Linked DNA regions of Homo sapiens: all the other regions are linked to region 1. Evidence: fine-mapped expression QTL. A gene starts in region 1. Each other region holds a variant in brackets. All regions are shown on one strand. Distances are from middle to middle.

Region 1 (7,884 bases):
AGCCACTTTCTGTACTTACACTGGAGTTCACTTCAGTGCTGAAAACACATCACTGTAGTCCTGCTTGTAATAAAGTCCGGACTAGCAATCTGCCTTTGGGTTGGGCTTTTCTCTTACAAGATAAGCTGTTAAGTCATGCCTTGATTTTAGATCTGCCAACATATGGAGTCTTCTAATGTAGCCTTCCCTCCACCCCCTCAACCCCCCCTGCCCGCATCCCCCCAATCCCCGCTCTGCTCCACTCCCTCTGCACACACACACATACACACATACAAAAAAGGCACTGCAGGGCAGAAATTCCTCAGGTGCTCGCTAATGGAATTCCCAGGGTCTTGGAGCCGCTTCGGGGATCAAGAGATCTCATAGCCCCCGCTGGGGTAAGGAGCAGCGAGTCTGTTCCATTTAATCAAATACAGAATGAATTTTCAGCTCTATTCACTAGCTTGTCTCCAGGGCTCTCAAAAGGCACCAGGCAGCTAGAATCACACACATGTGGCTCTTTTAGGCAAGTATAATTAGCTTGATTTTAAAAAGCCACATTAATAATATCACCTCAGGACCATTATTCAGGAGACAGATGACAATGATACTGTATGTTTTAAGCCTGACAATGGGGGAAAGAGCACAAGCAATGAGGGAAAACTTGAAGGATTAAAAAAAAAAAAACCAAGAAACCAGTTTTTCATTTAATTGTAATCCAATATTTTTCAAGTGACATTAAGAATATTCCATACACCATCCCTTCTTTTTAACAAAAAAGAATCAAGTAAAGCCCTCCCCTGTGCTGTTGAAAGTGAGTTAGTGCCAAATACACAACAAAAACTTATCACATGGAATGATTACATACAATATAAAAATTTAAGTAAAAATAAAACATTCTCAAATTCAAGTTCACGAAATTTCTTGAAAAAATTCCCCATTAAAAAATACTGTAAAAAAGCAAGTCCTTCAACTCAAAATATTTGGCAACCATACTCCAAATTCTGTTTCTAATCTAATTAGTTTGTATTAAGTTCATTTACTTAAAGGGGGGCTACCATGTACGCAGCTCATCTACAGCTCCACTGTATTGTCTTACCCATACTTCTACATCATGCCATAGCTGATCACAAGGCGCTGGCTCATATCATTACACGTTAAAGCAACACATTTTTCAACTCATTATTTATTTTCTAACGCTTCCCTGATTTTTACTACGATAATATTTAATTCCTGAAATCATTTCCCTAGTATTTAACTTCGAAACAATCACCAATTTTTAGTCTAAACGTTCGTGGAAAAAAAAAAATTCTACAGAAGGAAAATTTTACTTCAACTTACATTTCGACAAAACCATACATGAAATTGTCTACAAAGTCATGAAGGCAGATGGGCGAAGTGGGAAAATAAGAAGCAAGCCCAAGAAATAGTCAACAAATTTTTACCTGCTCTCTTTAGAACAAAGCCCTAGGACATTAGTTCCTATTCCTACCTACTGCCTTCAGCTGTATATACCCTGACGATCTGGAGGAGAAAGTCCTATCTTAAAGTGAACTTAATTCTTTTCCTGCAAAGTCAAACCACCTGCAAAGAAAGCAAGGCGTAAGCTAGATTTAGAAGCCAAGCTACACAAGCTAGATCAGTATCCAAGTCCTAAGGGTTCTTTGTACTTGAAGGCTTGAGAGTCAGAGCTGTTTAAGTACTTTGCACAGAAGAGGAGGCTGATGAGAACCATGGCAATCAATCAAAGCATCCCAAGTGAGTTATTACACAAACAACAGCACAGTACCTCTAGTAACTGATTCTCCTGGCTGACTAAACTATTCAAACAAAGACAGATTTCCCAAACACTGGGAAGTTTTTGCATGAAAGTTAAACAGTATACATTTGTGTGTTTCTTAATAGAAATATAAATGTTTCTGTTCTACACACTGCCAAACACACACCCAGGGCACGTCTTTACAAAATGAAACAGGTTTTCTCCATCCTTCTCATATAACTTCAAGTATGAGGCAGTTCATTCCAACATGTGCATAACAGAGACTGCAGTATTTGGTGCTTCTCGGGTTCCAAAGAATGCTTTCTAGTTAAGCACTAATTTAAAATTTCCAGAAAATTTTTTGAAGGTTTTCTTTCATCTTATCTTAAAAGTTGAACTATCCCCAAATTTTCAGCTAAAAATAGACTGAGGGTGGGGGAGAACTACAAAATGTCATAGAATGTTTAGAATTATGCTGACAATAAACTCATTTCATTTTCTAACACCCTCCCCACCTTCCTCTCCTTGGAGACACTGTCCACTAGGTATGCCAAGTGTCAGTTGGGAATTTGAGGGTTATGTTATCAGCGCCGAAAGGAATCAGAATTCACTGACTTGGCGTCTTTCATCTTTACTGGCATAGGCCTGAAAATAAATCTCATGTGAGCTTTTAGTCCAACCTCCTGTTTTTCAAGGTGTCTGGTTTGGGACACAAAGGCTGACTTTCTGTTGATGAGGTTCTCTAAATTCTGGATTCCCACTGGAAAGCAGTCTGCCCTTAAAGCACCTGCCACCCTCTGTCGTCCTGATGAGGAAGGGCAGGCATTCTGGAAACAGCTCCTTTTGGAGAGCCTTCCACCTGATTTGGTGGGGTTAGGGAGAACAATGAAGGGAAGGGCAAGAGAGTCTATCTATCCCCCTCAGTGATTTATTGCTGAAATTCCTAGATGTGGAGAGAAAGCAACAAAGGTCTGGAAGCTGCCGACTGAAATAAATAGCGAGCTGTAATGTATTTAGCAAATGATAATGCAATCCACAGAAAGCTTTACAGAGGAGAAGGAAAAATACACTCCCTGGGGCTGGGAAGTCAGTGAGTCTTGTGAAGGCAGAGAAAGATACATTGTGCAGGAAATTTCTCTTGCTTCTCCCTACACATAAATCACTGTCTCTCGCGGGCGCTCTGCAGGGATGGAGATTGAGAGAGGCCAGGGACCCGGCTCCCTTGGGAAAACGCGCGGGCGCCCTAGCTCCCCGCTCTGCGGCATCTCACCTGCCCCCGAGGACCATCGTCAAGAAGAGGTTTCGTCGTGTCACTGACACCTCACCCCGCCTCCTCCCGCGAGGTGCCTCCGAGCCCCCGAGGACGCGGAACGCCGGGGCTCCCCGCCGGGCAAGCATCAGCATCCAGACCCCGCACGCAGCCCTGCACCCCCACGCCCTCCAGGGAACGCCGGCCCGCCCGTCCCCGGGACCTCCCGTCCCCTAAGCCAAGGCCCCCCAAGCCCAGTGCCCGCGCGCCACCCCTCCCTCCGACCCTGCGGCGGGACCCCCACCCCCGCACCTCTCCGCGGGGCTGGCTAAGCCTCCAGACCTCCTGCGCTGCAGCCGGCTCGGAAAGCCACCCCCAGGTCATCCCCCCGCGCGCGCGCGGCGGCGGCTACGGTGGCGGCGGCTGCGATCCGAACGGGCCCCTCCATGCACCGCGCAGGGCAGAGGAGGGAGCGGCGCCTCGCACGCCGGGGCTGGGGCGCTGGGCAGGGCGGGCGGGCGTGGGGTCCCGGGTCTCCTCGCACCTAGCCGCGCGAGCCGGGCTCCCGGGCTCAGGGGAGGGGAGCTGAGGGGCGGAGTCACCGGGGCGCGCCCCCGCGGCTGCGCTCCTCCCCGCCGGGGAGCGCGGGCACGTAACTCGGAGGGTGCTGGGCCGGCCCGGAGCACGCGAGCAGCGGGAGGAGGGACCGGGGAATGACTGACGGAGGCGGGCCGTAGAGGCCGCTGTGCCCCGCCGGCCCGCACCCGGCCGGAGTGTGCGCGCGCAGCCTGCCAGATCAGCGGCGGGGGCACGGGCCGTACCAAGTGACGGAGGGGGGCACGCTCTGGGCAGGACCCTCTCCTCGTCATTGACCTGCCTACTCTGCAAGAGAGATACCCCAGGGGAGCATAGAAGAGGCTTTTCTTGGGTGTAGGACAGGTAAGGGTGAGTTGCCTTACCAAGTCACGGAGATTCCCATCATGCCTGCACTCACGCTCCCCTCACCTTTCATTCCCTTGGAGAGACGGCTCTTCTGGCAGGTCTCCAAATGGTCGACTCTGTCCCCCGAGGCCCCGCCCTAGCCTCGTTCGGGCCCCGCCCTAGCCTCGTTCGGGCCCCGCCCTAGCCTCGTTCAGGCCCCGCCCCTCGCCCCGCCCCGCCCCTCGCCTCTACCTAAGTTCTCTGAGCCGCCAACGGGTGCATCCCTTCTCCCGGTTCTTGCCTGGTCTCTCTTAGGGTTCCAGCGGCCCACCGCTTATACCTCCTTCGCCTTTCCACCACTTTCCATGTTTAATTCCTTAGGCAGCTTCATCTGATTCCCCCACCACCACCCACCCGCCCTGCCTGCACATAAACGCAAGCAGGTAGCAAAACTCAGGGGCTAGGAGAGGCGTGGTGTGAGCCTTTGGCCCCAGAGTCTTTCCAACTCGTCCGTTGGACCTGCCCCAAGTTATCTGAACTCAATGAACTTCAGTTGTTCAAACAGAAAAAGGAAAAATAAATTTCTATTCAAAATGTTGCTGTGAAGCGTAAATACGATACTTTGTGAAAAGCACCTGCCACTCAGTGGGCATTCAAGGACTGTAACTTCTTTATAAATTGTTATTATTAGCAGTTAGCTCTTTTTTTTCCCCATCATCATTACTTACTATTAGCTTAACTACAAAAGGATCCCTAATAATAGTTAAGTTTATAAATACTCAGTACTGAACTTCAGGAGAAATATGCCAGTCCTCCCTTACCTTCTTACGTGAATTTTAAAAAGAAATGCTTTGAAAGTGTGGTATTGTTCAAGCAGGTTAGCTTTCTGCATTAGCTAGATTCAGGGTTTTTGTAAAGCCCCTGGAAAGAAAGTCAGTACAGGACGGAAAAAAAAAACACAATTTTTTTTCTTAAGACGGAGTCTCACTCTGTCGCCCAGGCTGGGGTGCTCTTGTTGCCCAGGCTGGAGTGCAATGGTGCGATCTTGGCTCACTGCAACCTCCGCCTCCCGAGTGCAAGCGATTCTCCTGCCTCAGCCTCCCAAGTAGCTGGGATTACAGCACGTGCCACCACACCCGGCTAATTTTTGTATTTTCAGTAGAAACGGGGTTTTGCCATGTTGGCCAGGTTGGTCTTGAACTCCTGACCTCAGATGATTCTCCCGCCTTGGCCTCCCAAAGTGCTGGGATTACAGGCGTGAGCCACCACACCCAGCCAGAAAAAAACTCTTAACTCTAGTTTGTCCTCCACTGTTCTATTGTTCACTTTTGGAGACCAAGAATCTATATGTTATTAACAAGCTATGGTAAACGATTTTTCATTCGGCAAGTAAGTCTTTCTATAGAGGATTTAACTGAAATGAGAGTTTTGTGTGGATGTTAATAGAAGTCTTGCAAATTTATTGTGGCTACAGAGAATTCCAGGTTCTTCTCCTGGGACATAATGCACTTTGTGCACCTCCAGATCTCACAGTGCCATTTGAATTCACTATGCCTACTGTTACTCATAGTCAGACTAAGAAAAAAATCACAATGTTTGTTGATATTAATTACTTCCTCTCCCCCTTTTTTTGTAAAGCAGAGAAATCATTTCAGGTGTAAAACAGTTTTTCATTAATGAATCATTCATCCATTTGTTCAACATTAAGAAACAATGTGCAGTCCCAAGCTTCAAAGAGCTCACAGTCTAACTGTGATACAGACACACACGTGGGTAAGTACAAGGAGACATCTTCAGTGCAATGAACAGGGAGCTGTGTGAACACAAGGTCAGTATAGTATTGAGTATAGTATTAAGAGGTGATAGTATTAAGAGGTGATAGTATTAAGAGGTGATAGTATTAAGAGGTGATAGTATTAAGAGGTGATAGTATTAAGAGGTGATAGTATTAAGAGGTGATAGTATTAAGAGGTGATAGTATTAAGAGGTGATAGTATTAAGAGGTGATAGTATTAAGAGGTGATAGTATTAAGAGGTGATAGTATTAAGAGGTGATAGTATTAAGAGGTGGAGACTTTAGAAGCTGACTAAGTCATGAGGACCACCCTCATGAGCAAGATTCATGACCTTATAAAAGGGCTTCAAGGAGCTAGCTAGCCCCTTCTGTCCCTTCTGCCGTGGGAGGACACAGAGAGGTCATCATCTGTAAGGAGTAGGCACTTACCAGACCCTGAATCTGCAGGCACCTTGATCTTGGATTTCCCAACCTCCATAACTATGAGAAATAAATTTCTGTTGCTTAAAGAGTACCCAATCTAAGGCATTTTGTTATAGCAGCAGAAACAGACTAAGACACTATGGGGCCTCCAACCACAGATGTCCACTATGTAGAGAACTCCAAGTGGAAATACGGATTTAAACGTCATCAGCATAAAGTAGTGTTTATACCATTAAAGTGGAAGCGATCTCTCAGGAATAATATGGAACCAGAAAGTTGTAGCCAAGGATGGATCTCTAAAACTCCAATAACTAAAGCCCCCAATTATCTTGATGAATTTGGAGCAAAGGCTGTTTACTGAACTCAAGGTATGGGACTTGAAAAGGATGCTTGAAGAAGGTGGTGAAGGTTTGGAATAGTCATTAGGAAAAATGAGAGTTGAAAAATGAAAGTAGAAAATCACTCAGAGAATTGATAAGTGATGCTGAGGGCCTGGCTGAGGTTGGAGACCATTAATGTATGGTGATGGAGCTTGCATGATTATGTGGTTTTCTCCATCAAAATTTAATCAGTCAGGTAGAAGGGGAAAAGCATAACACCAACCCAATTTTGAAGTTTTTCTGGAAGTTGTACAAGAAGGAAAATAACACACGGTATTGGTAAGAAAATTTTTAAAACAGCAATCATAGAATCCAGGCAGTGGAAAAGGTGTAAGAGGTTTGAGAAGAATAATAGACTGGAAAAATTACAAATTAAAGAAAAGGAGATATGTATGACATTAAAGAGCTGTTGTTACAGGATTGAGTAAGAAAGAACCAAGAAGTCTTTGGTAATAACCAGAGTTTACCATTTCAGAAGTAGAACAGTTCCAAGTAATGATTAGATCTAGTATGTTTACCGGTGCTGGTGGACGATGTGGATGATTTATGCCGTCAGGGGACATATTGAAGGAACTGAGAGGCTGATAAATGAAATACCATGAGCCAAGTACTCAAGTCCTCAGGGATGAGGTGGGAAGGTTGTTAGATACTAAGTGACATTTAATACATTCCAGGCCTGAAGTGGGTGCTTTTATAATACTCAATACATGTTAAAATTGGTTCTCCAAGGCCGGGCGCGGTGGCTCACACCTGTAATCCCAGCACTTTGAGAGGCCGAGGCGGGCAGATCATGAGGTCAGGAGATCAAGACCATCCTGGCTGACATGGTGAAACCCCGTCTGTACTAAAAATACAAACAATCAGCCAGGCGTGATGGTGGGTGCCTACAGTCCCAGCTACTCGGGAGGCTGAGGCAGGAGAATGGCATGAACCCAGGAGGCGGAGCTTGCAGTGAGCCGAGATCCCATCACTGCACTCCAGCCTGGGCGACAGAGCAAGACGCCATCTCAAAAACAAAAACAAAAATGGTTCTCCAAGAATAACATAATAGAGTAACTAGAGTCCATAAACTTGTATCACATTCTGACTGTACCTTATTTGATCTTGGTCAAATAACTTAAACTCTTGGAGTCTTGATTTCATCATTTGTAAAGTTGTAAATGACTTCATCATTTGTAAAGAGTAATAATACCTCATATAGAGTTGTTAATAGGACCTACTTCAGTGGTTTGCTAGGAGGATTAATTGAGATGATACACACAAAGCACTTAATACAGTGATTGGCAAGTAGCAAACACTGGATAAAAGTGTTTTTAACATAAATAAAAGCTATTTATAATAATAATAGTTAATGCTTATATAGTTCCTTCTGTGCACC
Region 2 (7,884 bases), 61 kb before region 1:
CCTCCCACCATGACTGTAACCTGAGGCCTCACTGGAAGCCAAGTGATGCTGGTGCCATGCCTGCATAGCCTTTAGAACCATGAGCCAAATAAACCTCTTTTCTTTATAAATTACCCAGCCTCACGTATTCCTTTATAGCAACACAAACAGGCTAACACAACAAGCAATCTTGTGGTTGTAACTGGCTTCCCACTTGGTTCCTACAAGGAAAGAATGCTGACAGAAATAATCCGGTCTGTATGACAGTGACATTGCAAATTTGTAATTGCCATTCTGCTTTGCCTTGATCATCTGTGAACTGGATAGACATGAGCCGGTTTTTGAGAGACCAGTGATCTTTTGGCATGCTGACAATCAAGTTTCTAGAGCTGGAATGTGGAGGGCCAACTCTGGGCCATGGTGACGCTAGTTACTTTGAGAAAGCCACTAGGGAGCCCCATCTCTAGCCCATGCCATGCTCCTCAATTGAGCAACACCCTTCCACCTCAACATGTCTTCAACCCACCATACAAATACATACGAAAGAAGAAAATAAAGTTGAATGTGGTATTTGTATGGAGAAAACTGTAGCATTTAAAAAAAATAAATTGCTTAAGGGATAAAAGAGGAATGTATTCAAAGCAGGCAATGCTGAGTGATACTTACTGTATTCCTTTCAAGTTAGAAAGCAATGAAAACAGAATGAATAGTATGGTTAGTGAATCTTTTTTAATACTAGAAAAACCAAACAACTTCCTTATGTTGATTCGTCTGAAATCAAAACTCACCAAACACCACAGTTCAAATAGGAAAAAGAAAGTTATTGGGGAAAATGTCTGCACGGAAAATAATACCTTCCATATCTAAAAGAAATAGCATGTGACTGTTAACAAGGTAGAAAAGAAAGACGGCACTGGAGTTAGAAGCGGACTTGGGTAGCAAGCCGTTTCTCCACTTTCTGGACGATCTGAGGCATCGTGCATGGTTAACCTCCTCATGTGTCAGTTTCCTAATCTGTAAAACAGATGTGGAAATCTGTTCCTCATTAGGTTGTTTTGAATATTAAATAAATCTTTTCTTGTGGTTATTTCTTCTTGGACAACTCCAAACTCATCATTTCCAAAACTGAATCCATAATCTTCACCTAAAAACTCTTACTACTTATCTTGGTAAATGGTCTTCTGGTGCCCACACCCAATCCATCATCTTTCTCCTTCTCATTCAGTGTGGACTCCATTCCCTTAATCTCTCATACAGGTCCTCCCCTTCCTCCATCCACACTGTCACTCCCCTTATTTCTCTAGCCTTTTCTTTTGCTATTCCTCCCTTCTCCTTCTCTAACATCCTTTGGGGTTCACTATAGCTTTCAAGGAAAGATTCAACTTTGAAGCATATCACACAAGGCATTCCCCACAGTAACCAGTCACACTAAATAAAATCTCTAACCTCTCAATCTCTAAACATAATAGAACATATCAGCCACTTGTCGAGATGTCTTTGCTAGAAACTCTTTTGCTGTTTCATCTGTCTGTATCGTCGTTCTCCTTTGAAGTTTAGCTTATGATGCAGAGAAGCCTCTCTTATCTACTCACCCTTGTCTACACTGAGTGACTGACTTAGATATTTCTCGTGAACCCATAACACCAAGGGTATAATCTCGAGCATAAGCAATCAAAATTGTTATCAGTTTGTCTATATTATCCACATATTGTTAATGGGTTTAGGTATTTATATCATCCACTATACTGTAATTTTTTTAAAAAAATAGAAACAGGATCTCACTCTGTCACCCAGGCTGGAGTGCAGTGGAACAATCATAGCTCACTGCAGCCTCAAATTCCTGGGCTCAAGAGATCTGCCTGCCTCAGCCTCCTGAGTAGCTAGGACTACAGGTGTACCCCACCACACATGGCTACTTTTAAAATTTTTTGTAGATACTGGGTCTCACTACGTTGCTCAAGCAGTTCTCAAACTCCTGGACTCAAGCGATCCTCCTGTCTCAGCCTCCCAAAGCACTAGCATTACAGGCGTGAGCCACTGTGCACCACCATGCTAGGCCTATATTGTAAACTTCTTAAAGGCAAGGATTATTTTATCTTTGCTGTTCCAGCATTTTATACAGTATCTGCCAGAGGGTGTATAAAATAAATGGTAAGGTTTTTTTCAGACATTACTTTTATTCACATGAAATTAATACTCATATACGTAATCTGCTTAAGGTAGCTGAAACGTGCCTCAAAGATAAGAGCACTCAAGTAAAAGAGATTCATGATATTGAAGATACAGAGGTGCTTCGGAGGGAGTTCAAAGTGTTATAACCTGCTTTTGTCTGACATCAATTCATGGAAAACTGTAAAAATATGGAAGAGAAGTCTGAAAATTCTCAGAGCTTAGCAATGAAATTTTAAGTCTTCCCTAGATGTCCTGCCTGATGTTTTAGGACAATCACAAAAAGCACACCTGGCTATAAGTGTAGTGCTCATATAAGTGTGAAATTGAAATACTAAAAAAGTCTTTTGAAAATTATACAGCTAAGACCTTTAAAAACCATAAGATTAACTAGATATAGCAAAAAATAAAAATAAAAAGTAACATGTAATCCTTCAGTAAAATAACTTACCACAGGTACCACTATACATTTTGATGAGTCACACACATGAAAAGTGAGATTTTCAGAGTTCAAAATATAAATGTCCTTCTCTTACCAGAGAAGAAACAGAAAACTCCTTCCTTTTTCTTTTTTTTTTTTTTTGAGGTCTCACTCTGTCATCCAGGCTGGAGTGCGGTGGTGTGATCTCAGCTCACTACAACATCTTCCTCTCAGACTCAAGCGATCCTCCCACCTTGGCCTCCTGAGTAGCTGAGACTACAGGTGTGTGCCACCACACCCAGCTAATTTTTTTGAATTTTTAGTAGAGACAGGGTCTCCCCCTCTGTTGCCCAGGCTAGTCTCAAACTCCTAGTCTCAAGTGATCTGCCCACCTCAGCCTCCCACAGTGCCTAGCCACAAAACTCCTTTCTTGAGTTCTAAAAACTTAGTACCAGAACATTTTGAGTCAGAGTTAATGAAGTTAAGTACTAATCATGATACTGAGATGCTAAAGTTTAAATATAGGACATTAAAATTGTTGAAATAGAACCTAAAAGAACTGTATGGTAAGATATGAAAATAAACAAACACCCTATTCCACCCCACCTCCCAAAATCTGAAGCAGGTCAGTTATATTTGTAAAGAAACAATAAAATATTCTTCTTTTTACCTCCACTGTGCCTAGAGGAATCTGTAAGTACCACTCCAAAATTGTTGTTTGCAGCCTCTGAAACAACGGGATACTTAGGGATGCCCACGGGTGGAGAGGATGCCTGGGTGTTTTTTGATGACGCTGTTTTTTCTAGAAAGGTAAATAAACATATACAGTAACATAAGCATATATGTATGTAAAGTGGAAAAAAAAGAGTACTGTGAAACTTACCTGGTATGTGGTTATAAATTTATGAACTTATCAGACACAGCATCTAAATGTAAGACCTACTTCATAAATACTTAGCTGATCTGAGGAACTGACCAAAAATTACTTTGTTTTTTTCTAGTATCTTTAAAATAAAGCTAAAATGTCTTTCTTCATTCTAACTTTACGTATGCAAAAAAATAGGTGAAAAAGCCAAATGACTAAGTGTTCAAACTATTAGTCCATTTTTCTTTTTACTGTATATATTTCTTAATTCTAAGCTATAAAACTCACCATTAAAGAGCTTCTGCTAAGTTTTCTAAGGAAAAGCCTCACATTGTTTTAATATTTCAAGAGGCAAAAAGTGAAATTGATTTGTTAAAAACTGAAATGCATGATTACTCAGTATTTATAGGTCAGACTCCATGAACACCTAATGACTGATTATGAAAATGAACTCAAGATACATTTAAGATAGAAAGTACTCGTTATTTTTCTGGCCAGACTTAGTAATTAGATGAAAGGGTCTTTTTCAAAAGCCACTAGTTGGTTTCTTCTCAATCTTCATACCTCCTTTTCGTTACAGTGCCATACTAAAATACTCTTCCACCCAGTTCCCTTCTCTACCCACTAACGTCTCTTTGTTCATTTACAGCCAAGCCACGATGGCATCTTTTTTATCAAGCCTTCCCTCACAAGCCGCCCTGCAGAAAGAATATCCTTCCTCTGTGCTTCCCCAGCACTGTCCTTGGAAATCTCCTGTGGTACTTGGCATATTCTGGTCTCTTTGCCTACAATCCTGCCCACCTCCACACTATCCAGACTCCAGCCAGCTCAAATGTTCCAGCTCTTCTCAGCTCACTCAGAGGTAAAATCAAAGTCGTCCCAAGGTGGATGGTGTGCTGTGTGATGTGGACACCCCGTTGTTCCCTGGGATCTCTCCCCTACAGCCTCCTCACCCACGTTGCTCCCATCACAGCAGCCCCATCGTGTTCCTAGTGAACACCATGTACACCCAACCTTGGGCCCTGGCACTTGCCATCTCTGCTGGGAATGTTCTTTCTCTAGGGAGACACGTGGCTTTCTACTTCCCCTCCTTCATGTCTCTGCTCCGATGTCGACCGCTCATTGAGGACTTTTCTGGCCACCTGCTTAAACTGTTAACAACTCCTACCCCATATACTTCCTGTATCCACCCCCTAACTTATATCTCTGTTAACACCTTCTAATGTACTTATAACTTACGTGTAAGTCTCTCTCAACTAGAATGTAAGCTCTACAAGGCCACAAGTTTTGTCT[G/A]TTTTGCTTCTTGCCTAACATGTAAAAGGCATTCAATAAATATTAGCTGAACTGAATACTGTCTTGTAGTTGGTATTAAGTTACACATCTTAGCTTTCTTATCAAAGTATAAGCTCTGTCGGGATGGATCTCATTTTGACCATCTTCATTTTCCCTATATCATCTATCCTCATTGCCTTGTATAACATAAGCTTTCAAAAACATCTGTGGAATATTCTATAGAATAGGACAATACAATCACGTAAATGTGACCCCAAAATGGAAGGGGGAGGCTATAATAGGGTCGTTTAGTGAATTTACATATAGGAATTTCTACTATCCAAAAGAATTCTGGTTGGGCACAGTGGCTCACGCCTATAATCCCAGCACTTTGGGAGGCTGAGGTGGGCGGATCACGAGGTCAGGAGATCGAGACCATCCTGGCTAACACTGTGAAGCCCCGTCTCTACCAAAAATACAAAAAATTAGCCGGGCATGGTGGCACGCACCTGTAGTCACAGCTACTCGGGAGGCTGAGGCCGGAGAACTGCTTGAACCGGGGAGGCGGAGGTTGCAGTGAGCTGAGATTGTGCTACTGCACTCCAGCCTGCGTGACAGAGCAAGACTCCATCTCAAAAAAAATAAATTAATAATTCTCACTAATAAATTGACATCAGGGCAGCCAGCTCATTCCTCCAAAGGAAGCCCTCACTCACCTTTGCTGGTTCGGAAGGTAAGCATGGCAGGTTGGCCTTCACCTGCTGCGCTTCTTGCTACCATCAAGACTTCATAAAGACTAGATGGCTCCAGCTCAGCTAAATGGAGCTCATTTTCACTTCCTGGGACTCGAACCGTGTGCCAGCTTCCCAGCATGCCAACCCCATCATCCAGCTGCCCAAGAGAAAACACACCAGAAAAGAAAAGCAGGAGATGGAGGATAGGAAATCTTTCGGTCACATTTGATCAAAACTAGGATTCATTTAATTCTAGAAGAGTTTTAAGAAGTAATACAGCATGGTAAGTAAAAAAGACACAATACTTCTTCATATTAAGAAATAGAAGATCTGCTGCAAGAACGCTGCAATTCTCACTGTAGAAAGACTCCTGGCTCTGCATCTGACCACTAATGTGTGGCCTCAAGCAAGTTACTGCCCTCCCAGACTCTGTTTCCTTTACTTGTAATGGAAACAATGCCTTCTTTCTTCCTGGGCTAATGAAGAATAAAATAAGTATAAAATAATAGGTATCATTGGTAATTATATAATACACATAATAGATACATGGTAAATTAAGACAATATTATATTATGTTATATGTATATGAATTATATAATTATGTATATTTCCAGCATTCTTGCTTCATGTCTTGACACTGTTCAATATGTGTTAGAGGAAATAAAAAGATCTAATCAGTTGTTTCTTGATTAATGGAACCAAGAAACAATATTGCATGGAGGTATTAGGGTAGATGAGATTACTAGCAAAACTTCTTTATCTAGAATCATTCATCAGGTTGGAAATAGTACATAAACCTTAAAATATCATCATATTAAAATATCATCATGTTATTTTTCCTAGTCATTAAAAACATTACCATTCAACAATGTATACTAAAATTTCTTGGACAAAGAAAATGATTTTAAATATGGAATGCATCCCTCCCATTTCATTCATGTACTGGTCTCATTAAACAGAGAGGAGCTTTTCCATTCTGCTCCAACACAAGCCCATGGGGAAAATGATATTTGAAGAGTTAACTGAGAGAGGCCCAAGGTTTACCACCAAAAATGACCTAACAATGTATGACTTTAATACAATTAAAAAGGCAACTTGAAGCTGGGCACAGTGGCTCATGCCTGTAATCCCAGCACTTTGGGAGGATTAGGTGGTGGATCACTTGAGGTCAGGAGTTCAAGACCAGTCTGGCTAATATGGCAAAACCCCATCTCTACTAAAAATACAAAAAAATTAGCCAGGTGTGGTAGTGCATGCCTGCAATCCCAGCTACTTGGGAGGCTAAGGCACGAGAACTGCTGGAACCCGGGAGGCAGCAGTTGCAGTGAGACGAGATCACACCACTGCACTGTGGCCTGAGTAACAGAGCAAAACCCTGTCTCAAAAAAAAAAAAAAAAACAAACAAACAAACAAAAAAAAACTTGAAATGCAAACAATTGGCATAAATTATGCCAGAAACTCTGTTCAAACAGTTGTTTTTAATAAGAAACTGCTTTATTTGCTACATAAATGGTATTCTACTACCTTAGAGAGGGAAGGAATTTGTGTTTTAAAAGTGGTTATAGAGCTTTATGTTGAAGGGCTAAAACATTTGAATACACATGTAAAGACATCATTGGGTTCCTAGAATTCCAATTTGGGGGGAAATTATACTTCATTCTCAGTGCTTTCCTAGGATTGGTAAATCCAGCATGACTGGGATCTCTCTGACAAACTCATCAGTCTGGAAGACTCTTGTTCTGTTTCCTGCCATTCTACAAATGAAAAGGCAACAGTATATGTTATACAAAGAACGTTCAGGTGTGAGCCGAGAAAGATGATAAACGACAAGACATTACCTTTCGATACTTCACAAAGTAAGCATTGATGGGCAGCCCACCATCCTTGCCTGCCCTCCACACCAGGTTGTACGTGTCTGGTGTGTGGGTCTGTGGGGGGCTCAGTATGATGGGGGCATCAGGAACAGAGATGCCGCTGGCGTTTTTCTCTGGTGCTGATTCCACTGCACTGGGATGGACCTTCACCGGAAATGAGCTCAGTAACCCAGTTTCTGAACCATCTCTCTTACTTCTGTCATCATTCTGAGCAGCATCAGGAAGTGTGACTGTCTCTGCTTTTGTATTTGTTTCAAAAGGAACTGCAGGGAGAGAGAGAGGAGACAGCTTGAAGATACTCCTCATTTCATTGTCTTCTACCCAGTTTGTGACGTGACTGCCCTCACTTGTATTGTTAGCACAATTTGAGCCCCAGAAGTTAAAACGGGTAACACTGCCATTTATAATTCATGGAAATGTTTAACCTCTAATTGCAATCTTTTCTCATGGTGGAGCAAATGAATTACTTGAAAAACCAATTATATGATGCAATAGTGTAGCAGTTAAACGTTCTTATTTTTTCCTTGTTCTCTAAGAGTATTCTTTTTAGTAATAATCATTTGCCAGTT
Region 3 (7,884 bases), 87 kb before region 1:
GCCTGGGTACTGGAGTGAGACTCTGTCTCAAAAAAAACAAAAGAAAATCAAAAGAAACTAAAAAGGATTCAAGGTCATGGAACCCAGTGAGGCAAGCGGTCATTTACAGCATGTCACAAGAGCCCCAGAATCAACTACAACTTCCCCACAGATCTATACAGTGCACCCTCCCCTCACCTGCTCTCAACTTTTCACATCATACTCTCATTTACATAATAGAGGCAACGTTTTCCCTCCAGATGGTTATTACTAAAATAGATGGGTGATAAAAGGGGTCAAGGGTTGGCAATGTTTCTTAAAAGCTCACTCCAAGAAATATGCTTAAGTTTACAACTGAGAAGGCAGAGAAAAAAGAACCTGGAGTGGCAGGGCACAGAGCAGGTAAGAGTCCGTACGGAAAAGGCCCCATGCAAGACTTCTCCAGTTCTCAGTATCTGTGGAATAAAGAAGGCGAATTGCAGAGGCACCACCAGATCTCAGAGGACAACTCTCCAGAAGTATACTGTGGGGCAGCTCCTCTTCATCTCCTGCAGTGTTCTCTGCCTCAGTGACTGCGCCCAGACACCTAGACATCATCTTCAACTGCTTCCTCCACTGGCCTCTTCAACCAATTACTTGGTCTTTTTTTTTTTTTTTTTTTTTTTTAAATCCCTCAGACTCATTCAGACTCATCTCCTTCTAAATCCTAATTCTCTCAAAATTCTTCTCTTTCTCTCCCTACAACTATGCTAGTCTACTGTTTCTCATCTGGACTACTGCAACTGCCATCTAACTGGTCTCCAGGTATCCTCTCCTGCCCCATCCAATTTAGTCTCCAAACTGCATCCAGAGTGTTCTTTAAAAACCCAAATTCAGCTGGGCATGGTGGCTCATGCCTGTAATCCCAGCACTTTGGGAGGCCAAGACGGGTGGATCATGAGGTTAGGAGTTCAAGATCAGCCTGACTGACATGGTGAAACCCCGTCTCTACTAAAAATGCAAAAAATTAGCCGGGCGTGGTGGCGGGCACCTGTAATCCCAGCTACTTGGGAGGCTGAGGCAGAGAATTGCTTGAACCCGGGAGGTGGAGGTTGCAGTGAGCCAAGATCGTGCCACTGCACTCCAGCCTGGGCAACAGAGTGAGACTCCATCTCAGAAAACAAAAACAAAAACAAAAACGAATTCCTGCTTAAAACCATCCACAGATGTGCCATGGCTCTGTGTGATCTGATTTCACTCGCCTTTTAATTCTGACTCCTCCAGTTACTAGGTTTCTGCTATGTTGGCCTTCTTTAAGTTCTTTGAGGATTCAGGCATTCTGTTTTAGAGATTGTGTATAAATGGTCCCCTTTGCCTGGAAAGCTCTAAACTTATTTCCTTCCCTTAGACCTAATTTTATAAATCTTCAGAGCTCAGCAAAATGCCACTTGCTTACAGAGGGCTTTCCTCTCTCCCACATTCTTTACTTTTCCTTTAAAGCATCCAGATTTAATTACATATTCATTTTTATTATTTATGTCATTTTTTTTTTCTTTTGAGACAGAGTTTCGCTCTTGTTGCCCAGCCTGGAGTGCAGTGGCGTGATCTTGGCTCATTGCAACCTCTGCCTCCCGGGTTCAAGTGATTCTTCTGCTTCATCCTCCGGTGTAGCTGGGATTACAGACACTTGCCACCATGCCCAGCTAATTTTTGTATTTTTAGTAGAGATGGGGTTTCACCACATTGGCCAGGTTGGTCTCAAACTCCTGACCTCAGGTGATCCGCCCGCCATAGCCTCCCAAAGTGCTGGGATTACAGGCGTGAGCCACTGCACCCCGCCGATTTATGTCATTTTCTTAAAAGATATGTCTCCCCTATTAAACTCTAAGCTCCACGCAGGCAGGAGCAATGCCTGTTATGCTCACTGCCATATCCCCAGTACCTAGTTTGGTGCTTGGCTCACTAGAGACCTGCAGCAAACATTTGTAGGTAGGTAGGTAGGTAGGTAGGTAGGAAGGAAGGAAGGAAGGAAGGAAGGGAGGGAGGGAGGGAGGGAGGGAGGGAGGGAGGGAGGGAATTCTTTTTTTCTTTTTTACTCTCCTTATTTTATCATTCTCCTTTTCCCATCTCTGTTATTCTCTGAAGATGTATTAAGGCAGTAAGAAAAAATAACAAAAGATATGATGTCTTATAAAAAGAATGTCTAATCACTTTAAATACATAATAAAAGCAAATAAATGCATCAAATAATTAAATATATAAAAATAATCAATCTGCCAAGGATATTGTCTCCTTTGGTGTCTCATCTGTTTTTAAGTTCTATTACTTGGATAGAACTTAAAATGGTCCTAAATCTGTATCACAGTTCCATTCTACCCCCTGAAGCCAAGACCAGCATTTTCATCTTTCTCCTTAAGATATCAACTCATACTTCAACTCTAAAACCAAATTTATCACCTTTTTATGATGTATCATTTTATTAAGTTTCTTATTACTATGACTACCACCCAGATCATCCATGTTTGAAACTTCTTACACATCTGGAATCTTCTGTTTTTCTAGATCCCTGTCAGTCAATGGCCAAGTCCTGAAGACTCCATGTCTGCAGTCTCACTCATCCCTTCCTCTTCATCCCCATTCCCCATGTCTCACTGATCCCCTCCCTCCCTTCCCTCCTGTGCACTGCCATCTTTCATCCAGCCTGAGCATATCTCTGAACAGATCATTCCTGTTCTCAATAAGCTTTGCAACAATTATGATGCTGCTACCCCAGTGTTTCTCAACATTTAACGCATATCCCCTTTTGATTAATATAAAAATTGCATACCCTTGTATACATAGACATTACAGACATAGAGATTTTTTTCTATTCTTTAAATATAAAATTATAAAACTCAACGTGCTTCTTCAAACTCTACTCACTATATCCCTACCTCTGTCTGAGAATCACTATTGTTAGACTATGGACTCTCTGAAGGCAGGGCCTAGGCCAGTACCCAGTACATGACAGGCACTCAATAAAAGGCCTTGTTTATTAAATAAACTTGCTTATTTAATAAATAATATTTAATAGGACTATTATTAAGTAATAGGACTTGTTTATTAAATAAACTACTAAACCTTCACATTCAGGGTTATCCACTATATAAACTCAGTCCAGTTGTCCAATTTCAATATCCTACTATTCTCTAGTTGCACTTCACAGCCGATCAAATTATTCCAGCGGTTCTCAAAGCATGGTCCCAGGACCATGGGCATCAGTACCATCTGCGAACTCATTAGAAATGCAAATTCTCAGGCCCCACCCTAGACCTGCTGAATGGGAAACTCTGGTCTAAGAATAGGAGTGGGAGTAGAGCCTAGTAATGTGCGTTTTTATTAAGTGTTTCAAGTGATGCACGCTAAAGTTTGAGAACCACTGAAGTCGCCTATTCATTCTTATGTAAACATTATCCTTTCTACGTCCATGACTGTTCTTACATTCCTTCTACGGGGAAACACCTCAGAACCTAGTCCAGAGCCTGGGTAGTGCTCAGTAAATGTTTGTTTTGTTTTGTTTGACTGAACAGCCAAAAATCATATGAGGCCCACTTGATAGCCCTCATATAACTTAACTGAAATCACGCTTCTTTTTATGTTTACACTATTTCAGCTGATATTCAGAAATGCAAACTCATTCATAGTAACAATGTCGATATTCTAAAAGCATAAATTGACTATAATTTTCTATATTTTGAGAGTAAACCACGTATCATCTACCTTTCGGCATTCACAGCTTTTTACAAATTTTGTCATTTGTAAGATCTTAAGAGGAGATACCTGTTCTCAATTCCAAAGTGAAAAGACTTAAAATCTTTAAATTTAATAATTCAAATTTTCTAGAGCTGAAGGTAGGTACTTATTGATACTTATCTGTCCAATTATTGAGTGTCAAAATCATACAGTTGCTCCTGGGAGCCAGGTGAGACACTGGCTAACCTTGAAGGCAATGCAGGCAAGTAAAGACTTGCACTAAACAGGCAGATTCTCATGAGGAAGAAAA[T/C]TGAAACCAGGAAGAAAAAGAATCTGGTGTTCCAAGCTGAAGAGAATTCACCTAAATTCCCAGATAACAGTAAAACCCACACACATGAAATGTAGTAAGTCATTAACTTGAAAATTAATAGAAATACAATTGTTCATTGTCTTAAAGGAAAAAAAAACTGTATAATAAAAACTTGAAAATACTAAAATACTACATACACACACATGCACACACACACACAAACACACACACACACACACACTACACATACAAATAGCCACAAAGCCAAGGTCATTTAAATGGCAGAGGTCATATAAGTCCTTCTAAGGAAATGGGATGCATTCTTGATATTAAGATGATACTTCATCAAAAAGACATGATTGGCAGGAAATTGCCAGAGACTACCGTCAGATTATGTTGGGAGCAATCTTACATTACCTAGGACAATTTTCCCCTTTTTAGTTAAGGAAATAGCTTCAGAAACATTACGTTACTTTCGCAAGATCACAGGTTTAAGCTATGTCACAGCCCAGGTCTACTTATTCTTAGACCAGAGATCCTGTCGTTATACCATTCTATTGTCCAGGAGAACCAAGATCTGCTGATGACCAAGAACCACAAAAGAAAACACGTTAAAATTTTAAGCAAGACCACTTGTAACTAAATCCGTCTGATTACTCGCCAGGTACATGAACCACCTTTACCAGGTCTTTAGCACGTTGCCTAACAAACTACGGTAAAGTCCATGAAAAGCTCAAGACAAAAATGTGGTTTCAATGTTATGAACATTTGCAAAACCAGGGTCATATAGAATTTAAATACGTAACAAGCAAACCTTAGTACATAAAAGAAGCAGATGGCTCTTTTATAGACACCCTGAAATGGGTTAAGTAAATGATAACAAACAATCTCCAAGAAGCTCTGTTGCTTTTGTTCTGCAACTCTCAAAACACAGGCTGGAACAACGTATTTTTAATTTGATGGTTGGCCTGATCCTTCTTCAAGTTCTGGTTTCAATAACTCCCAGAGACAACTCTTAACCTGTTAATCCATTTTAAATATATAGGTCAAACATCATTTCAATAATAAAATATCTAAACTCCCACCCATACTCCAGTTATTTTATGTACTAACTATGACATAATCTTTTTGGTTGTAGAGTTTTAGGACTGAGAAGGAAGGACTTTTGACACCATGTAATTCAATAACATCATTATGTAAAAGAAAGAACTAAGATTTCTGAAACAACTTTAATACAACAAAAAGCTTGGTAATCCTTGGGATTACCATAGAGAGAGGTCGTAGGAAAGTGTGCCGAGTATCCTATGTGTTAAATGCACATTGCTCTCCATATTTCTATCTTGTTTGAAATATTGTGAGTACATACCACTTTTAAAATTAAAACACAAAATTCAAAGCAAGGGTTTGCTGCTTAATTTTCTTAAGATTTTAAGAATTAAAAAAAAACACTGGATAATCTGGTAGGAAAATTTCAGTAACATTACTGTGAAAAAAATTACTATATACAGAGGGTTCCCCCCTCCCCCCAACACTCAGAAACACTGTCATTCATCCTCATAACATCCCATAACATAGAGTAGAAAATAAAAGGTGAGAAAAGATAAAGTCTTTATAACAGAGAATGACTCTAATTTAAAATTTTCAAAAACATTAAGCCTTATAATAATATTTCAGTGACAAATAGAGCCTTTAAGATGGTTTCTATATAGCTGAAGAAACCGAGGCACAAAAAGACAAAAATTGGAAAGCAGAGGCAAAAAATTAGTAACAGCTTTAAATTTAAGATTGCAAATCCTGAACTTTATATCCTAGGTAAAATTCCAAGAACTTTCTTTGCTGAAGGGAAAAATAAAAGGATGCATATGCCTTATTCACAACAGCTTGTGCAGACACATTATTAACATACCTATTGTTGTTTCGACAATTTCGGCAGTTAACACACTCCAGAGGGTCAATCTGAGGCACGGCCGTGTACATTCCACCACCCTGGACAGGAAGGAGTGTCAGAGAAAAAGAAAAGAAGAAGGAATGCTGAAGGTACTCACAGACCAGTAGCCAAATAATCACAAATACACATGAGCCATGTCAACCATAAATGGGCACACAGTATATTCTAACCAACTCCCAGAGCAACGTCATTGTGAATATCACTGACCCATATTCACAAAGGAGTGAATGAGAGTTCTGCATTAGATTTAACTGTATTCCAAAAACTTCACTGCCATGTTTTCCTACGTATTTCTGTACTAGACAAAGGTAAATAAATGAAGGGAAAAGTTTAGTCACTTCCCTTCAAATCTAGTGGGCTCAAAATACATTATATGTTATAGCCTCCATTCATTTTCCCTTTCTTGGCAGTCAGGGAAGAATTTCATGTGATACCAGTTGGAGAAACAGGGTGTAAAACCTGTGTAGATGATGTCACATGATAAACTCATCTTCATTTTCCTGTAATTATTTCAATTAGGTCTGTTCACTTGACAACGCTAAGTTTTAAAGCATGCTATATTTTTCCAGATGGAGTAGATCTTCAGCCAGCAATGACTTGGAGGGGGTGTGTTAATATTTGGATGTTGCTTTTGGCGGAAACTGCCCAGCAATTAAGAAAAATGCCCAGATTAACACATACCTCATTGTAAAATGTTCACTTGACAGACAGCAAGGTTCTTCAAAAATGAAGTTAAAAATTAAACTAGCCTGATAGTCAGAGGCAGAATTCTGCTTTCAGAAGAAAAACAGCAGAACTGAATTTGATAAAAGGTGGGAGAGGCTGTCACACTGCACCCAAACCCAAAGCAGGCCTTCAAGGTTAGGAAAAGTTCAGGCAATTGTTTTTCCTAGAATACTTTCCATTTCCATTCATTTCATAACAGTAGCCAGAATCTAAGCAAACCAAAAGTCCTGAAAATTTCCTTCAGTGTTTCTGATCCAACCAGCAACAGGAATTATTAAGAACATATCGAGAGAAAGAACTCTCCTATACTATATTCCATCTGAGGGAAAACCTGAAAGGCTCAGAAAATGAAGTTCACAACCTGCAGGGTAACGTTGTGACTTACGGATTCTCTGAATCCCTCAACACGTTGAAGTTAGTGCAATGATTTTTAGGGTCACTAACACTGTTAAAATTTCTCTATTTCCCCCACCCAGAAAAGTAAGAAAACGAATAATTTAGAATCACAGATAACTTCTGACATTGTACACCAAATGGGGCACCTATTATTTAAATAGAAATTCATTGTTCAAAAAACCCAAGGTTCCGTGTTCAAACACTAAAGCGAACATGGGCCTTATGTTTTCTTCTTATGGAAACAGTGTGTGCTATTCAAATGTTAATGCTCTCTCCTTCAGTTTTCTTGGACAATGGTAGTAGTTTGGACTAGGAATGGTGACCAAAAAAGCTTAGAAAGTCTGAATACATGCTGTATCTTTCCACACAAAATAGTGAAATCATGATTCTCTTTTAGTAATGAGATGCATTAAAGCAAATTAATATTTCTTCCACAACATACAAAAGCTAGGTCACATAAAAGCTATTCAATTTCTAGCTTTAAAATATGAGTATATATTAGTTTTGTTCTCCAAATAGATTTTAATAAATCTTTAATAAACTGAAGATGGGGGGAAAAAAAACTCTAAGCTTCTTCAAATTGTAGCACATTGTGGGTCATGGTAAATTTATTTGTAATCAGAACAATGACAAAAACTGAATGCTTAATTCCATCAATTAAACAAATTATCTATTTGATCAAAAGTAATATAGATGTGCATCCAAACAATGTCATAAATCAAACTTTCTAGTGCAGAGAACCCCACGTAAGTCTAAAATATGCTAGTCATTCTACTACCATTTCAAAAATTAAACGCTATCAACTAGTTATCTC
Region 4 (7,884 bases), 30 kb before region 1:
TTCAAGACTCTTAATACATATTGTCAAGTCGTGTTCCAAAAAGAGGCCCCCAATAGCCAACCCCATCCCTCACAACCAAAATTGGCACATGAAGGTAACTCCCCATCACTGACATATGGTTTAGATCCTCACACTGTGGTAAGCAAAGTGTGGATACGAATCTTGACTTTGAGTAATGAACTAAAATACTTGCTAAGGCATAAAGCAACTTTCACTCTCTATTAGGGATTTTTTTAAACAATATTCTAAAGTTACATAAAAGTAACTGGAAAAAGAATGTAAGGCATGGGCATTGCAGGCCATATTCATCAAACCTTGTCAATCCTTGAACTTCCAATGACAAAAAACAACGTGGACACAAAATCTCGCTTTTTACCCATAATCTATTATATAGTAGAATAAGGAGTTACTGTCATTACACCGTGTGGTTTTAACTCATTACACATGTTTCTCAAAATAAATTTGTATGCAAAAATTGCTGACACTCTAAGGGAATATTTGCTGACATTCAAAACAGTAAATTGCCATTCATTTCAAAACCGTATTCTCCCTTTCTTACTGCTTTTCTTGTCCATGTAACATATATATATATATATGTATCTCTATTTCCCTAATCTACTAGAGGTAATAAAATCAGTGAAGAGGTTAGAATTTGAATTTGATTCCTTATGTGAAAAACAGAAGTGACGGGCTCATCGAACCCAGTGGTCTCAAATGGAATTAGCATGACCACGAGAAAGTTCTTCCATCTCCTTCCCATCTTCATATAAAGCTAGTGGCCAACACAATTCCATTCTTTTCACCGACATTCTGAGTGGGTGATTTGTCTGAGAAGATGCTTAGTGGTCCCTTTGCTCTCAGGAAAGCGCCTGGTAGTACAGTCTCTCCGGAAAAAGATTGTAGAACATGCACACACACAAACACACAAAATGCAGCTAAGTGTAGTAAAACCATTAAACCATCTACAAAGCAGGACAACTTATTGCTCAATGCTGTAAAAATCTCTGGAGGCTCCCCAGTCTCATGTGGCACAAGTACTGCTCCCAAAGTCCAAATGTCACTAAACAACAGCTGGTGTTTCCTAAGTTATAAGGCTTTCTTTAAGCCTTTCTCCCACATCCACATAGAAGGCAATCTGTCCTATAAGCTCTACTTTATATGCCATGCCAAGCTTAGAGCATTTCTGTGGGCAGAGGGAAGCTAAAGGTATACCTCATCTTAGAATAAGAAAGGAAATACTTTCCTAACGTTTACTTAACTTATTGTTCAGGTTGTGAACTTATTGCTTTTATAACCCCTTTTCAACATGCTGCCAGAATAATCCTTTGGGAAAAGTCTTTCCTGAATTTCTAGATTTGATTACTTTGTTTTTGAAGCAACGCCTTTGCTTTCATAAGGATGATGAAGGCTGTCTTTCTGAATCATTCCTCTTCCTAGCCTCCTATTTCAAACTTTCTTGTAGTTTTCTTTCAAGCTTAGGAAATAACTGTGATTAATTTGTGAACAAAAACTTGGCTTTGAGATCAGTTATAGTTCTTCAAAATAGGAAATTATTTAAGTTAGATTCCGTTTTTTAAAAAGAATCTTATTCTGTATGAAACATGGTAATTTCCTTTTTTAAAACAATGATTCATCTCGATTTTCAAACAATCTATCTCAAAATATGCTATTGATCAGCTAAGAAAAAATTATTTTCAGAACTACAAAGAAAAACTAAAACATGTCTACTTAAAAATTCTTCATTAAGTACTATCAAGATTAGTGCAGTCCAATTTCAATTATGGAAGTCAAATATAGTATATACTGTTTTTTAACCCATTGGGCTACCTTGACCTTAACCACAGGCAACTTTAAATCTCCTGTCAGTTTTCTTCATTCTGAATATTTAATTTAACTAAGAAGTTAACATCATTTCCTACACAAACTTCTCAAATAACTCTGCTTTTCAAGTAAGTATTCATTCAATCAAACCATTTAATACATAGAACATCTACTTTGGGCAAGAACCTATGAGGGGTGCAAAGATATACCAAACTAAAGGAAACTGCTCAACTAAGAAGGGCACGAACATAATTATCTCCAGAATAAAGAAAAAAGTCTTAAATGCAATAAGAGAGTAAAAAGTATTGAAAGAGTTCAAAGCAGAGGAATTCATCTTTTATTCAGTAAATACTTGGTGCATGCTTACTATATACCAGGCACTGAGCTATCCTGGAAACTCAACCATGAATAAAAGAGACACAGTGTCTGCCCACATGAGGCTTACAACCAGGTGAGGACATGTGACAAGTAAGGAAGCAATTAAAATACAGACTCGTCTAACATGGGAATGGCTCAGATAGCAACTTTTTGCAATAATGGCTCTTAGAAAGTTATTTCACTTTTTTTAAAATACAGCTTCGTTTTATTCAGTACAACTTTTCCAATCAGAAACTAAAGAAAACACTCTAAAAAGTGATATTATAGCTTCAGGCAAAGCTGCACACACCAATTTATATAATACCACAGTTTTTAGACTTTACACCACGTCACGTAGAAAAAAGTGAATTGCTTGCTGTGTTTGGATGACCTCAAACATTGTGCTTTGTGTTCAGATGCCAACTGAGGGGGAGGACAGTGGGCATTCTCCTGATCTTCTGTGAGATTCCACTAATTAGTGAGATTCTACTAATCTTCTGTCTGCAGTGTGTGTGCACCATTTCCGCGAGTTGTGAAACACTCTTGTGTTGAGCTTTTGTTTTGCCATAAGGTGATTTTAAGTGCTTTTATTTTCTAAGTGCAGTTTGAATGCGAGGTAACTACGAGCCTTAAGATGACTTCCAGTGTCCAAAAATCCATTTCCTGACTCTACACCACCCGTGAAGGAATTGCTCACCATTCCTCTTTCACCAGCCTCAAGGCTTCTCTTCCTCCTTTGACAAGCATAATAAACTCAGTGCATTTTATTTAAGAACAAACTGGATTTATTTACTTTTAAAGTATCTTTTACCATCTCTACAAATGTGCTTTCACTGCTCCATTGACATGTTTTTCTATCTGTGAAATCTGGCTATCTTGGATTGGGACAGAACATATCATGACTCTTTCCATGAAAAGCAATAGACATGCTTTACACTAAAAGGCAGAATTTTTAGGAAATAAAGGTTTTCAGAGATTAAAGCAGTTACATGAGAAAGGGACAGGTAAGCAACAGAATAAAGCAAATACAGGTGCTCCAGGAAAAAGAGAAGGCTCACTTAACCTAGATTTGTACTTGGAGAGGTGAAGACTTCTCAGAGGAAA[CAACT/C]GACTAGGTGAAATCAGAGGGATACGTTTGGGGGATGGAGTAGAGGAAGGGAGGAAGAGAAGGAAGGAAGTATCTCAAGCAGAAGGAACAGTGTGTTTGTAGAATCAGAGTAAGGATGTCTGGGCTGGAAAATACAGTAAGAAGAGAAGGATAAGACACAGTGAGGGGAAAGCAACATAAATGAGCAGAAACAAGAGTGTAAAGAACAATATAAATCATATTAAAGTGTTTGGCTTTTATTCTGAGAGGAGGGTGTCAAAGGCTTTTAAGCAGGCAAGGACATGATCAGTCCCGTACCTTTGAAAAATCGCTGACACTGCAATGTGGAAAACAGTTGAGGATAAGAGAAGTTAGAAGGCTATGGTGAGAGATACGGGGACCTGTACTGGAGAAATATCACGGGATAAATTTGAAAGGTTTTTCAAAAATTTTTAAGACACGGTCATATTTAAAAGACGTAAGAGGCCAGGAGCGGTGGCATACACCTATAATCCCAGCACTTTGGGAGGCCAAGGTGGGTGGATCACTTGAGCACAGAAATTCCAAGACCAGCCTGGGCAACATAGGGAGATCCCATCTCTACCAAAAATACAAAAATTATCCAGGTGTGGTGGTGCACACCTGTAGTCCCAGCTACTTGGGAGGATGAGGTGGGAGGATCCCTGGAGCCCAGGAGGTTGAGGCTGCAGTGAGCTATGATCGCACCACTGTACTCCTAGCCTGGGTGACAGAGTGAGGCCCTGTGATCAACAGGACTTTGATAATGAATGAGTTGGACTGGAAAAGAATAGACCACTAGGACCTAGGACATCTTTGGAATCCATTCATCTGTCCACTGCTCTATTTCCCCACTGCTGTGACTGTAAATAAGGAATCGAGGCTGCTGTCCAGACTTCTGACTCAGACAAGTGAGTGAGTGGATGATGTGCATTTACTGAGATGGGAGCAGCAGGGTCTTCTGTGGTCTGCTGCTGCTGTTTGAGGTGGTAGAGGGAATGGAGAGCGTCTGAAGGTGTGGAGATAACAAGAGGAGCTGGAGGTAAGTGGGGTTCTAAGGAAGGTTGGGCAGGCAAGCAGAAAGAAGCCTGAAGCTCTTAAGAGATTTGGGTCGCAGATGACACTCTGGTGGGCAACAGCAGACACACGGAACTATGGCTCAGGCTGAATCCCAAAACTATCATGCTTGAAGGGACAGAAACTCCTCATTCAAAATAAACCACACTATCAATACTACTAATGAAAAAGTTTTAAAGCAAAAAAAAGGAAAAGACAGAAATGATATTCCAGGGATGGAGTCAAACAGTCAGACTTTAAAAATGAGTTTCTTAATGTGATTTAATTTCACATTTCACACTGTTATACCTTTCCAAGGTACTACAGTGTAGGGTAATCAGACACATTCCTTCATGCTTACTAAAGGCTTTGATTAGGGACGGTCTTCATGCTGTCCACAGGGGTTCTCCCAAAATGAGAGTAACAGCTGGCATACATCTTCCATGATTCTACAGGAGGAAAGGAGAGGCAAACAGAGTGCTACAAGTCTAGTCGCAACAAACATACTATCTAATAGCATGCTACTCTCTGGGGCGTATGGGGGTTCTTTTAGAAACTTAAGAATTTCTTAAAGCAGTCATGTGCAATTAACAATGATGTATCTTCTGACCTGCCGCATCACTCCCAGTCCATAGGAGGAACATATAAATCTCATCAAAGTAAAGTTGCAGGATCTCAGACACCAAGGCCCCCTGCCAATCACTGGGAGTGCTCTCTTCCTGCCAGGATGAAGCCCCTGGGTGTGAAATGCAGCTTTCCACAGTACTTACTTTATAAGCACTTATTAATGATCGTGCAATCATTCAGATCAACTTAAAAAAAAAAAAGTTCACACCTACAGACTTCGCAACCCTTCCCCCACTTCTCCCAAGTCTCAGTCGAGTCAGCCAAGCATACAAACGATCCTGCTGCCTGCGAAAGCATTTCCTTTCACCGTGGACTGCCAAAAGTAGAGGAAGAAAATGGAAGTGACTTGGAGTTATGGCACCAAAAAGGCCAAATGAGCAAAGAAATAATCAACTCCACATGAGCCTCTTCAGCTCCAACACAATGAAAAGGGCCCAGGACGAACCCCAGGAAAGGTCACTGAGATCAAGGGTCACACGCAGAAAAAGGCAACAGTGAGGGGCTGCCAGCTGCAACAGGAATCAATGTGGTCCTAATTACACCAAAGGAGAGGGGGCAAAAGCTCAGTTAGGTTCTATTCACAATATTTGTGTGTTTAAAAAAAAAAGTCAAGTGTTCCTGTTCCACTCTCTTTCTAAGAGACTATTTCTTCCTGCCACTAGAGCACAGGAAGCCAAGAATTGTGAAGATAATCCTGGCATCCACAGTGGGTTGTACAGGAGCATTATAAATATTTAAAAGCATAGCTGCATACAAATGGTGAAATTCTAAAAAGCAGCGTGAGAGAGATTATTAAAAAGACAAAATATAGAAAATTTCAAGGGGATTATTTTGCAAGTCCCATGGAGTCAACACTTCCACAAATCCAGCACTTGGTAGCTTTTCAAGTTTGTCACTGGAATTGGCTTTATGGGAAAAAATAACCGTTATGGTAACCACAAAACAAATGCTAAAAGCTAAGTTTGCTAAGAACTAGCTATTGCAAAGATGTAGACACACATTTGACTAACTTCTGCTGGAGGATGAGCAGGAGGAATATGGAAACATTTGAAAAAGTGCCCCATATAGGTGTTAGGTAATATAATTAACGTAGTTGTTAACAGGTCCAGCGCTTTGCTTAGACCCTACTGACTTATGCACTGGACTAACCTAAGTATAAGAGTTTCCCTGGCAGTTACAAAAGACTCACCCTCATGGGGTTTGGCTTAGATTCCATTTTAATAACAAGGAAAAAATCCTCAAGGAGAAACTCATTTCCATGAAGTACATTATTCAAATATACACAGTCAAGCATTGAAAAGGCAGATAAGAAAAAAACAAATCTTGGAAAAGGATCTTTGCTGCAAATAAACTTGAATCAACGCTGGCTGAACACTGGGTCTCTGCCACAATGACTTTTACATTATCTTACCGTCAAGTTACGAGTTTCCTAGAGACCTAGAACATATTAATACTAGTTTCCAAGTACCTTATTCCATCTTTAAACTTGGCCACATAAAATAATGGAAGAAATCTAGATTTCTTATCAGCCCCTGCTTTGTTCAAACTGGTAATGGGAATTAGGTCAGACACAGCTTCATCAAAGCTGTCATCCTACCATGGAAGAGAGGCTGTGCATTGATAAAGGGGTTCTTCAAGCACATTCATAAGCTGACATACAAGTCAATCACAGATTACTATGCAGTTAGTACATAATTGGCACCAATTGACTGACAAGTCTAAAATTAAGTAAAAACACAAATTGGCCTATGTCAGGAAAACCTGCACCCTTGAAAACTCAAAATCAGTGCCAGGCAGTTAAAACCAAAGTAACCATCAGGATACAATGCCCTGATGAAACTAGAAAATAGAAAAACAAATCAATTAGGATCACAATATCTTTGTAAACATAACACAACATAGCATGAAGTTTTAGTCCAAGCAGAAAAGCCCGAGAAGTGGCCTTTGGCATCAGGTCCGGCCTGACTATCAAAAATAAAGCAAAGTTTGTTGGAACAACTCTGCTAGGCCACACATGCACGAAGCGGCAGTGGCCAGATTGTAACACAACACTGGCAGGATGGTCAAAGAAATAATTCACAGACACTGATACAGAAAAGGTACATACACACACATATAAATACACACATATGTATACATACTACTAAAAAAACACAGCCGCAGATAGACCCAACCTGGAACCCAGATAAAACTTATTCCAATGATGCTTCTCTGTGCAAAACATAATCCCTTATTAATTATTTTTGGTATCAATGTATAAAGCAGGCATGAATATTCTCATTATGATTACATCTGATTTTTAAACACATATAGTCTTAACTCCAACATTATGACCCAATTTATTCATTAATGACTATTTCCAAAAAATCAATTTCCAAAAAATCAAGAACATCAAACACTTTCTTTAATGTACCACAAGCAATAAAGGTAATTTTAAAAGGACTCCAAATTTCTTGGCACAACAAGAGTAACAAGAGATTAAATATGCAGTTTCCCAAGGTAACTGGCTTCTTTAAAGAAACAATTCTCATGTATAAGTCTTGGCATAGTTCTTAAGGCTTTTGTATTATACTATACTCATATTTCATAGTCAAACAATAACAGACCCTATGTTTATAGAATACATTTCTACCTGTATATACCCTTGTAGGCCTCACTCTTCTTTGAAGGACTTGTCATTGTGGACTTCTGTGCACAACATGAGGGTTTCTTTTGTTTTTAGTGAGTTTTCTTAAAACGTACAACTTTACTCATGTTGTTTTTTTGAGACAGGGTCTCGCTCTGCTGCCCGGACTGGAGTGCAGTGGTGCAATCATGGCTCACTGCAACCTCTGCCTCCTGGGCTTAAGTGATCCTCTCACCTTAACCTCCCAAGTGGCTGGCACCACAGGCGCAAGCCATCACGCCCAGCTGATTCT

Which allele goes with the higher level. Alleles are on the strand shown, and positions count from the first base shown. SD is a standard deviation of normalised expression in the study named. Not every link is listed here.
With allele C in place of T in region 3, the expression in cerebellum of the gene that starts at base 3,587 in region 1 is higher (large effect, 0.88 SD a copy in GTEx).

What was found.
Region 2: its variant is fine-mapped to the expression of CDON in sun-exposed skin (GTEx, PIP 0.95).
Region 3: its variant is fine-mapped to the expression of CDON in cerebellum (GTEx, PIP above 0.99). The same link has a PIP of 0.9 or more in cerebellar hemisphere.
Region 4: its variant is fine-mapped to the expression of CDON in whole blood (TOPMed, PIP above 0.99).

What each region holds. Positions count from the first base shown.
Region 1 is chr11:126,059,280-126,067,163 of GRCh38, forward strand. It overlaps CDON (cell adhesion associated, oncogene regulated), which reads right to left and starts at 3,587. Exons shown (of 20, transcript NM_001378964.1): 1 at 3,300-3,587. RefSeq lists an enhancer at 1-1,144 and silencers at 3,345-4,014, 4,085-4,174.
Region 2 is chr11:125,998,480-126,006,363 of GRCh38, forward strand. It overlaps CDON (cell adhesion associated, oncogene regulated), which reads right to left. Exons shown (of 20, transcript NM_001378964.1): 9 at 7,280-7,578; 10 at 5,423-5,597; 11 at 3,240-3,371. Among named protein-coding and RNA genes, the nearest start is that of VSIG10L2, 56 kb to the left of the region's middle. The variant G/A (reference allele first, on the strand shown) is at 4,728.
Region 3 is chr11:125,972,398-125,980,281 of GRCh38, forward strand. It overlaps CDON (cell adhesion associated, oncogene regulated), which reads right to left. Exons shown (of 20, transcript NM_001378964.1): 18 at 5,907-5,986. Among named protein-coding and RNA genes, the nearest start is that of VSIG10L2, 30 kb to the left of the region's middle. The variant T/C (reference allele first, on the strand shown) is at 4,001.
Region 4 is chr11:126,028,976-126,036,859 of GRCh38, forward strand. All of the region lies in intron 1 of CDON (cell adhesion associated, oncogene regulated), which reads right to left. Among named protein-coding and RNA genes, the nearest start is that of CDON, 30 kb to the right of the region's middle. The variant CAACT/C (reference allele first, on the strand shown) is at 3,283.